Homo sapiens: one gene and its partner. The protein of the gene in region 1 interacts with the protein of each later gene in a pairwise test. Each region holds a gene or a part of one and is shown on either strand. Other genes may lie near its edges.

Region 1 (7,037 bases):
TCAGAAAGTACTCTAGGACACCACGACCCTAGAGATATATTTGAATGACTTGACATGTGTGAGGTAAAGAAAGGGCTGGGAGAAGGGGCATCTAGCATACCAGGCTCCCAAGCTCAGTTCAGGGTATCTATGACACCTGAGCCATTATAGAAAGGAGGATTTCAGTCAGAAAGCAAAAGGCATGTTTTCATGAGGGACTTTGAAGGTCTTGGGGCACAGGTTGTGCTTTCAGTCTCAGTCAACAGAAAAATAAGAGTGTGGAAGTCCCTCTCACACATAGAAAAATGATTGCTGAATATTCTTACATTTTAAAAAGTTTTAAAAGCCTGTGATCTTTGCACAGTTTTTGAGTCAGCAACTCTAAAGGAAGATATTCACCATAAGTGACCCCATATCCCTGGTCATGGAGCCAAGGATTGGAGCATTTTTTCCTACTTCACTTAGGGGTGTGGTTTAGCTCTGATTCCAAGAGGAAGAAGAGATGGCACTGTCAGCATCTTTTAAAACCATGGGAAACAGAGCTACTCATAGTAGCCACATTCTCACAGGGGTCATTGACAGTAGGGTCAGCGGAAAGACACCCCTCTTCATGGCTTATAAACAGAGAGCATCAGTAAAATAAACAGAGCAGAAGACAGCACAAGTGCAAGTGAGGGTCCTTATTGAGACTCTGGGCATAAATTGTGGAGCTCTGTGAGGAGCCTGTTTCTGCGCATGAATCCTGAAATTTGTCTCTCAAAGATAGCATAATCACGTTTGACTCTAATGCCCTAAGCACATGGGGTAAAGCTGTAGGCAATATCAACTTTTGCACCTGACATAATGACTCACATCTGTAATCCCAGCACTTTGGGAGGCCAAGGTAGGAGGACTGCTTGAGGCCTGGGCAACAAAGTGAGACCCCATCTCTAGAAAAAATTTTAAAAAATTAGCTGGTCATGGTGGCACATCACTGTAGTCCCAGCTATTCAGGAGGCTGAGCTGGGCGGATTGCGTAAGCCCAGGAGGTCAAGGCTGCAGTGAGATGTGATTGTGCCACTGCACTGTAGTCTGGGAAACAGAGCAAGACTCTGTCTCAAAAATAAATCAATCTTTTCTTTTCTTTTTTTTTTTTTTTTTTTGAGACAGTCTGGCCCAGTCACCCAGGCTGGAGTGCAATGGTGGGATCTTGGCTCACTGCAACCTCTGCCTCCCAGGTTCAAACAATTCTCCTGCCTCAGCCTCCTGAGTAGCTGGGATTACAGGTGCCCGCCACCATGCCCAGCTAATTTTTTTGTATTTTTAGTAGAGACGGGGTTTCACCATGTTAGCCAGGCTGGTCTCGAACTCCCAGCCTCGTGATTCGCCCACCTCAGCCTCCCAAAGTGCTGGGATTACAAGCATGAGCCACCACACCCGGCCAAATCAACTTTTTCAAACAAATAAATCGACATAACCACACCATTGTATTAATCAATGTTCTGATTGCAATTTGAGACAAATGTTGTTTACATGGTCCTTCTGACAGCATCCTACTTATCACTTCCCTTCCTCCTTCTATGTCTCAGTTCCACTTACATATAACATCTCAATAAGCATTATATTACACACACACGTGTGTATTATTTCATACACAACATATACTTCTGAGCTACTTACATTGTTATTGCAAAGATGCTCCTAAAACGGCTGCTTATTACTACTCACTGAACATTTTTCTGAACATTTTTTTCTTACAGCTTGCTGAGCATTTTTCTATGTCTTTCAAGATTCCTTGTAAAGTAGTTAATATATGTAAAATATTTTCATACATTGGGGCTCTCTATAAATGTAATGCTTTTGGAATATGAATAACCACATCACTCTTAAAATATTCAATATTCTAGTGTTTGTGGATTGATAATCAAGTGCTTTATTTTTTCAGCCAGGAGGAAACTTCTCATCAAGCTGCAATTTCCAGCTGAAACTGTCAGCTGGAAAGAGACCAAAGCTCTCAAAATCAAAGGGAATTTCACTGAGAAGGGCAGGGGTGTGTTGAGTCAGTGCCCAGAGGTGGAAAAGAAGCCCCTCTGGCTTTATTTCTAAGCTTGGCATTTCAACAAATAGAAAAACTAAGTTCTGGAGAGATTTCTTCCTGAGTGGAAGTTCCTGACACACTTTCTGCCTCCATTCCTATTCTAGTTTAATCTGTAGCAGGAGTCCTGACTGCCAGAAGACAGATGAAACCCATTACTATTAGCGTTGGAAAAGCAAGACAAAGCAAAGTTGAGTGAAGTAAATGGAAACACCATCTTTCTTTTTCAACCTGGAAATTTAACAAGCCTGGTTCTACCCTTAGTTTCCACCATTAATTCTTTTATTTATTTGCTTATTTATTTATTTATTTATTTTTTGAGACAGAGTCTTGTTCTGTTGTCCAGGCTGGAGTGTAGTGGCGCAATCTCAGCTCACTGTAGCCTTTGCCTCCTGGGTTCGAGCAATTCTCCTATCTCCGCCTCCCAAGTAGCTGGAATTACAGGCATGCACCACCAGGCCTGGCTAATTTTTGTATTTTTAGTAGAGACAGGGTTTCACCATGTTGGCCAGGCTGGTCTCAAACTCCTGACCTCAAGTGATCTGGCCACCTCGGCCTCCCAAAGTGCTGGGGTTACAGGCGTGAGCCACCACACACAGCCTCCATCATTTAATTCTTTTTTTTTTTTTTTTTTTTTTTGAGATGGAGTCTCACTCTGTCGCCCAGGCTGGAGTGCAGTGGCGCCATCTCGGCTCACTGCAAGCTCCGCCTCCCAGGTTCAAGATTCTTCTCCTGCTTCAGCATCCCCAGTAGCTGGGATTACAGGCATGCACCACCACGCCCGGCTAATTTTTGTATTTTTAGTAGAGATGGGGTTTTACCACGTTGGCTGGGCTGGTCTCAAACTCCTGACCTCAGGTGATCCACCCGCCTCGGCCTCCCAAAGTGCTGAGATTACAGGCATGAGTCACTGCGCCCGGCCCATTAATTCTTAAAGCTAATAAAACATCTAATCACTGAGGCTTGAGTAACACCAAGAGTTTCTGCAAGAACCAATCTCAAACAGATAAGACTCAGAAAATGCACTGAATTCCTCAGATAAAAGGCCATTGTTCAAAACAAAATGGATTCATGACTTTGTAGTGAGTTTGAGATAGTACTTCAGACTCTCAGGATCATGACCAAGACACAGATGCCTTTTCCTGCCATGACAGAGTTCTGAAGTAATGTTTGTGATAATCAGGTCTGCTCTCAGATGCTGGGACTGCCAACCTTCATAGGAAAGTAACATATGCTTACCTCATGCCAGCAGCTGTACATGACTTCATATATGGACATTGGTGCCAGGTGAGGGCGATATAGCCTGAAGCCTTCAGAAATAGCTTCCACGACTTGCAAATTTGACTTATTTTCAAAAGGCATTTTTCCTTCTGTAAAAACTTCCCACATTAAAACTCCTGCAAACAAAAATGCAGGAAAACAAGGGGTTAGAGAGAAATGATTGCTTGGGAACTGAAAGAACAATTTCAAACTACAAGGCATTATTTTTGTGCTCCAGGCTTTGGGCTATAACCATCCTGAATAACAGCGGTTCTGTCAAGGAAGCAAATCATGTTCACTTTAGTTTTCAAAGAGGCCTGTAACCTGAAAATAATCTAAGTGAAAACAATGCCTTTCCTTGTCCATGGGTCTTGATTGCCTCTCCTATCAGGAGAAAATGCCAGTAGCATTTTCTTTTCTTTTTTTTTTTTTTTGAGACAGGGTCTCGCTCTGTCGCCCGGGCTGGAGTGCAGTGGCATGATCTCAGCTCACTGCAACCTCTGTCTACCGGGCTGGAGTGCAGTGGCATGATCTCAGCTCACTGCAACCTCTGTCTCCCGGGTTCAAGCAATTCTTCTGCTTCAGCCTCCTGAGTTGCTGGGATTATAGGTGCCCACCACCACGCCCAACTAATTTTTCTATTTTTAGTAGAGGCGGGGTTTCACCATGTTGGCCAGGCTGGTCTCGAGCTCTGACCTCAGGTGATTCGACCACCTCAGCCTCCCAAAGTGCTGGAATTACAAACGTAAGCCATCACGCCCGGCCTAGCATTTTCATTTCTAAGCAGCAGTCACGTTCCTGCATCCTGAAATCAATGAACCTTTCTGCCATTCCATAGAAACTGACAGGATTATGTGAGCCTCTGCTGCCTACTTAGCCAAGAGTTTCAGCCAGTAAATGGCATGTGTCCCCTTCTTTCTGCTAAAAGATTAGACTGATGGGCAGAGCCCCAGAATATCTAGCAGGGGCTCTGTACATAAGTAGATGTCCAATAATCATTGATTGATTGATTAGTGAAACTCCTGCAAGAACTCCTAATTTGAGTTCATTTAATTATTCACTTATTCTACAAATATTTACTAGACATTGATGAGAGGCGAGGCCTCTGCTGGGGCCTGGAGATTTTATAAGTGTGAGATCAATCCATGTGCCTAAGGAGCTCACTGTTCAGTGAGGGAGACAAGTAGGTAAAATTCAGGGAGTTCTAATTGTTTGGCAACCTTCGATGAGGTCGTTATATTGCTCTTCATTGGTCTCTAAGATGTGGTCTCACAACCTAATTGCTCTTCAGTAGAGCTTCAAGTGTCACCTGCTGAGACTATCATATGTCCATGGAGAGCTAATGAGATTAATGACACAAGCTTAACTTTATTGTATGTTTTTAAATTTATGTTTTAATTTTTTTGAGGCAGGGTCTTGCTCTGTCATCCAGGCTGGAGTACAGTGGCACGATCCTAGCTTACTATAACCTCAAACTCCTGGGCTCAAGCAATCCTCCTGCCTCAGCCTCCCGAGGAACTGGGACTACAGGTATATGCCACCACACCTGGCTAATTTTTTTTTTTTTTTTGTAAAGACAGAGTCTTGCTAGGTTGCCCAGGCTAGTCTTGAACTCCTGGTCTCAAACAATCCTCCCACTTCAGCCTCCCAAAGTGCTGGAATTGTAGGCCTGAGCCACTGTGCCCAGTTTTAACCTTATTGTAGACAATAAAACTGACACCCTTCTGAGGACCCAGAACCCACAAGCCTCCAGGAAGTTTGGGGTGAAAGAGGATAGATAGATTTTTGCATATTTATTACCATTTTTTGAAAATCAACCCCGAAACTTCATTGGACGTGGGTCTATGGTGTCTCTTTCTCAATGAAGAACATTATCCAATATGAATATCAATTTATAGATCCCAAGGAAGCCTATGTCTAAATTCCACAAACTTTAAAGTTAAGGAAGTAAATGAGATGCCACCATTTTTTAAACTCAGGTTTTAAGTTCAGGTTAACAACTGAACAACTGGAAAATAGTCAACCTGCTTCACAGTTTAGACAATTAAGTTTATTAATTACACTCTAAACAATGTCATAAGATCATTTTTCCTTCAAGCCTCTGCGGAGTGGAAAACTTATCTGAGTTTGTTTTCTAGATCAGTAGACTCTTTGTTATGGTTTTATAGTGAGTGCCCATGGAGGAAGGAAAAGATCCAAAAGGCAGACTTATGTAAGAAGGTATGTGACACCAGTTGCCAAAGACAGTCGGGATGTGGTTAGAACACACAGAAGGAAGCACAATTACAAGAAGACTTTTTAAAAAATGCTATATCAATTAGGAAATCAAAGTTAAAAATAACACATTGCCCATTTTATTAAATCAAGCTCCAGCAAGTGAACATCAGATGCACTCACCAAATGACCAGACATCAGATTTACTGCTGTACTTATTGAAAAGAAAAACTTCAGGAGGGGACCACTTGATTGGGAACTTGGCTCCAAAAGAACTGACATACTCATCATCCAAAACGTACCTAAGTTTATCAGATTCAAAGCATATTGTGTTAATTACCTCCAAGCTCTATTTACTTCAAATCCCTTTAGTTAACTCTAAGTTGCTAAAAGACAAAGTATTTTACCCCAGAAAGGTTGTGGATGCCTTCTTGTTAGTAGAGTGTGAAAGTGTCCCTGATAATGTTTCCTCCCCAAACAAAGTCTCAATTGTATTTGTTTTACGTGGACCTCTGAAAATCATAATGCTGCTTCAGTTCAAAACATGGCTCACTGTTTATGTTAATTATGGTAAATTCTTAACTCTACAAAGAAGCCTGCTAAAGGCTCTAACAACCAAGATTATAAAAAGGAAATAAAAGACCACTCTTCCCAGGGGTGGGGAAAACAAAGACCACTCTTCTTAAAATGGAAATGAATGATTCAAAGTTGGATGTCGAATTTTCTTCCATGTGCATGTTTTTTTGTGGGGCATACAGAAGGGGGGAAAGTAAAAGTATATGAACATAATGCTTCTGATATGACAAATCTCTAATGCACTAGAATGGCCCTATATGGAAAGAAACCAAGAATAACTACCGTCTCCTTAAAAAAATAACAAGTTGAACCCTCTCTCTTTTTTGAGAATTGTACACCGGGATGTCCAAATGTCAGACACTGAGGAGAAGAGACAAAAATAAACTTGTGCTTGTTGCCCCTTAAATATACAATATAGTGTTTTCACAGCATTTATTAATGCTGCCCCTATACTCTCACTTTTTTTTTAAATACACTACCTCCCTCCACCTGTCAGCACTTTATTGAGTCAGAGGTCATTCTACTTAGGTAAAGAATGACTAACAGAAAACAAAGAGAGAAAAGCCACTGTTTATAGATTTTGAATTTTTCAAGTCTAGGCTCTTCAGAGAAGAAAGATTGAGTTATTAACAAAATATCTTGGAAAATGGGCCATGAACAGGAGTGAGATCTCACTACCACCACCCCTATTACCACCACTATCTAGAAAAAGATCCCCTGAGCTTTGGGGGGATCTTTTTCCCCCAAAAAGAGGAATGGGGGAAATAGAAGGGAAAGAAAAGGGGGGTACTAGACATTAGTAGATCAGTGGGTTAGGGTCCTGTATCTTGTACCCTAAAGGGCTGCCCAAGTACTTTAGGAAAGAAGCTCCTACTCCCACATTAGGTTGGTGGGATTTAAAAGTGACACAGAACCAGTGCTCTTTTCCCCAGGT
Region 2 (3,692 bases), on another chromosome or scaffold:
AACTCGGGTACAAATTGGCATAACATGAAAACCTATGGAACTAGAATTATTATTAAAGAAATATTAGATGATCATAGCTTCCTGTGATAGCATTTTTTTGTGTGTTACCTATCCTTTTGGTAAAATGTTTTATCTGTGATTTCTTTAGCTTAGTCAACATTTTCTTGGGTGAACTTGATTGTCAACTAATTTTCATAAATGGACTGGATTCTCTTGCAACATTAATGTTTATAAAAAGTTTTAAATTGATTTGAATAGAAAGAAAACATTGTTTTAAAGTTGGATTTATATTTTTCTTCTATGTAGTTACTATAAAAGTGTGCTGGATTTGACCAATCCTTACCCCCACTATAAAGAGAACCCGTGATGACTTTAGTTTAAAAATTGTGGAAATTGTGGAGCAATTTTTCTCACAATGTGAGAAAAATTCTAAACCATATTAGATAATGTGGAAGTCATATTGTCTATCATATATACTGCCATTTAAAAATAGGTTTTTAAAATTTAGCTAAGTCTTAAGTAATTTGCCGTTGCTAATAATTTTATCTCCTTGAGTCGGTTGTTGGGGAGAGATGTTATATTCAATAATTTTTAGTTATTTTGTAATGCAGAGTGTTTATTCATTTCACAGTTCTGCAATGGATGTAGTATTTTGGGATTGCCCTGTCCAGAAAATTTTCAGCTACACACCTTTAAAGGAAAATGTTTCTATCTCAGATGAAACATGTAATTTGGGATGGTTCTTCCTTTGTCACTTAAAGGAAGAGATAGGAAAAGTCTCTTACCCACTTTAAACATGAGGGTAAAGGTTTAGGTCAAACTTACTGGCTTTGTCATTCAAGCATATCTGAATCCTCACTTTTTTCTCTTTGCTTTTTAGGGTCAGAACTGAGATATTACCAAGAAAAGGCACAATGCCATAATATTATGGTGTTATGGTATTTTGACTTAAAGGGGAAAAGGTACTTAATTTTGGTGGGATGTTGATTGTACCTTGTTAAAAAGACTCTCATTTTCTCATATGTTTTCTCCTAATAAGATGGAATATGGAGTATACTGTAATAATATAAGTGTTCATTATAAGCTATTTGGATTAAGAACTATTGCAGAGTTGTAAGCTTGTTATCAAATTAATGCAAGACATTTAAACTATTTTTTTGCAAAACTATTTATTTTTAAAACAACTTAAAGTATATCTAGGGTGAGTTAAAAGTCCCTGTGCATCTATATTAGATGGCAGGTTTTGTCACAGAGTCACTGTGTATTAATAATAAATGTTGAAATGGCTTCTCCGTGTCTCCAGAAGCATTTACATGTCCTCCTTGTGAGATCATGGTGCACAGAGGTCTTTGGACTGCCCTGAACCCGTCTTATGTGGACATAACCTATTCCCTTCGTTTTCTCATCATGCCATGTGTTTAAGATCTACCCGCTTAGTGTCAAGATTATTGAGATTTTCATCTAAATGTTTTTAAAATTGTATTTTGTGTTTTAGTGGAGGACAGTCTTGATACTGTTCTAATTCAGAAAGCCAAATTTTGATGCGCTTTTGTATATTCATAATATATACTTTAATATGCCCTATTCTAATCTAGTTTGAAATTGTTAGATTCTGATAGTATAATGATAAAATCAAACTATTTGCCAAAAAGTTAAATTTACAAGCAGAAAGATGTTTTGCGATATTTTCTACTTTTGTGTAGAAAGATAACCATTTGGGGTAGGCAGCACAACAGAATGTGAAAGATTGGCTTTATATGATACTAACACAGTCCAGTTAAAAGTGGAAACAGGGAAAAGAGAGAGAGAAAACTCATCATTTAGTTTGGTCTAGACACAATTTGGTTAAATTTTAGGATTCTATTGGCAGTTAACATAGATGACATGGACACAGCCTATGAGTGCTTTTTAAATACGTGCTTCTAAAAATCTGAGCTCAAAGCAAGAAAAAGAAAACAGGAAAGCTGTATCCATTTGCCATAATAGATGAATCAGAATTGTTTTCTATTAAATATTTCATCACGAAATATGATGGAGGCCAGAAGCTATTTTTAGGCTTACTATAACACTATTATGCATTTTTATAAATAAGAAGAAGGCTGTAGAAAGTACTTGAAAAATATCTAATTCTCTTTCTGTCTAAGGAAAACTCTTTCTACTTGGTGCAATAATCTGAAAATTTAGAAGGTCAAAATATGTCACAGGAAATGATCATAGACCTAAAAATAGTTTTTAAGGAAACCAGCTACACGGGGCAACCAACCATCTTGCTGTTGAAGAAAACAGTTCCAAAAGGCTAAATCATTGGCATAAAGGAAACAAAACCCAAAGTATGCGTTGTAATTCTTGAGCCAGTATTACTGAAACAGGATAAAAGTTATAAAATCTAACATAGGTTAATGCAATGTCTCTGCTAGTGCTACAAGTCTAAAATATCTTTGTAACAATGCTTTCAGAAATGCCAGTTTTAATTACATTTCACATTGTATATGAGAGATACTGCTTTATGAATGAATCGGAATAATACATTTTCATTTAAATCTTAATTGCTTTTCATTAAATGCGAAGTCTTAATTTCAAAATGAAATCACACTACCAGCAATAGACAGTTTTCTTGAAAACTCTAATAAGGAACAATAGCCAGTTCCGTAAATAACTTTAAAATTCTAAAAGTGTTGGTACACTAGCAATCACAAATATGGTTTCTTTTAATACTTTTTTAATCCTGTAAAGAAGGGTTTTTATAAACATTCTTTTTATTAATCAGTCATAACATGGCGAAGTGTGTAGTTGCTGTTTCTGAAAAGTGATCCAAACTCTACATCCAGAGATTATGAAAAATTCTTATAGAATTTTGTAACAAGTATTTACATGTTGGGTGAAAGAAATTTCATAGTCGTTGGAGTGCCATGAAATTAATACTTGCAATTCAGATTGCGGTAGTTTACACTTTTTCTGTATGTTTCAAATCAGGTGTGTACCATTTGTACTGAGAACACCACAGAATGAATTATCCAAAGTCCATTGATTTTAATACGTGTTTTGGTTTGTAAACAAATTATAGTAATTTCTTGCACATTTTTGGAAATTAATTGTATAAGAATTTATGTATCTGCTTCTAGATACAGTGTGTAAATAAAAAATTTCGTTCACAAGACCTGCCTTGTAGTCTACTTAATACCCTGAGAGGTGCCTGATTTTAATTAGTATGGGGTTAACGAGAAAATTTCTGGGTGTCCCAGGAACTGCGCAGGGGCTGGAGGATGAGAACCAGCAAATTTTAGTAAAAATGGGAAAGCAGAATCATGTCCCTAATAGAAGATATCAGCTAGTGGTGCTAATCTATGAAAGCCTTCCCGGTGAAGGCTGGAGTGAGTTTGGAGAACTTGTACTAAGCAAAAAGACTAAAAACTGACACAGTAATGAAACCTCACTGAAAGAAGGCTAGGCTAAATGATACAATGTTTGGATTGTGACATTAAAAAAGCATATCACTGTTAATATTTCATTGAAATACAACCAGGTCATTAAAGTGTATATAGGGGTCATTTAGAAATTTTTTCATAGATAAGAAAGAGTTCTTATATCCACTGTATTTAATTGTGTCAGAGTTCTTAAATCTGGGATTAAACACCCACTTTATTTTGTTTGAATACTTTGTAAACAAATTCTTTTTTAAAAAAACCATGGCT

What was found.
Region 2: the proteins of TXK (region 1) and SOCS6 interact in binary tests that used the Homo sapiens proteins (3 or more experiments, as listed by UniProt).

Annotation. Positions count from the first base shown.
Region 1 is NC_000004.12:48,068,225-48,075,261, forward strand, and holds part of TXK (tyrosine-protein kinase TXK), read right to left. Parts: intron 5,830-7,037; coding exon 5,711-5,829; intron 3,451-5,710; coding exon 3,293-3,450; intron 1-3,292. UniProt on the Homo sapiens protein: Non-receptor tyrosine kinase that plays a redundant role with ITK in regulation of the adaptive immune response. Regulates the development, function and differentiation of conventional T-cells and nonconventional NKT-cells.
Region 2 is NC_000018.10:70,327,043-70,330,734, forward strand, and holds the end of SOCS6 (suppressor of cytokine signaling 6), read left to right. Parts: 3' UTR 1-3,157; downstream 3,158-3,692. UniProt on the Homo sapiens protein: SOCS family proteins form part of a classical negative feedback system that regulates cytokine signal transduction.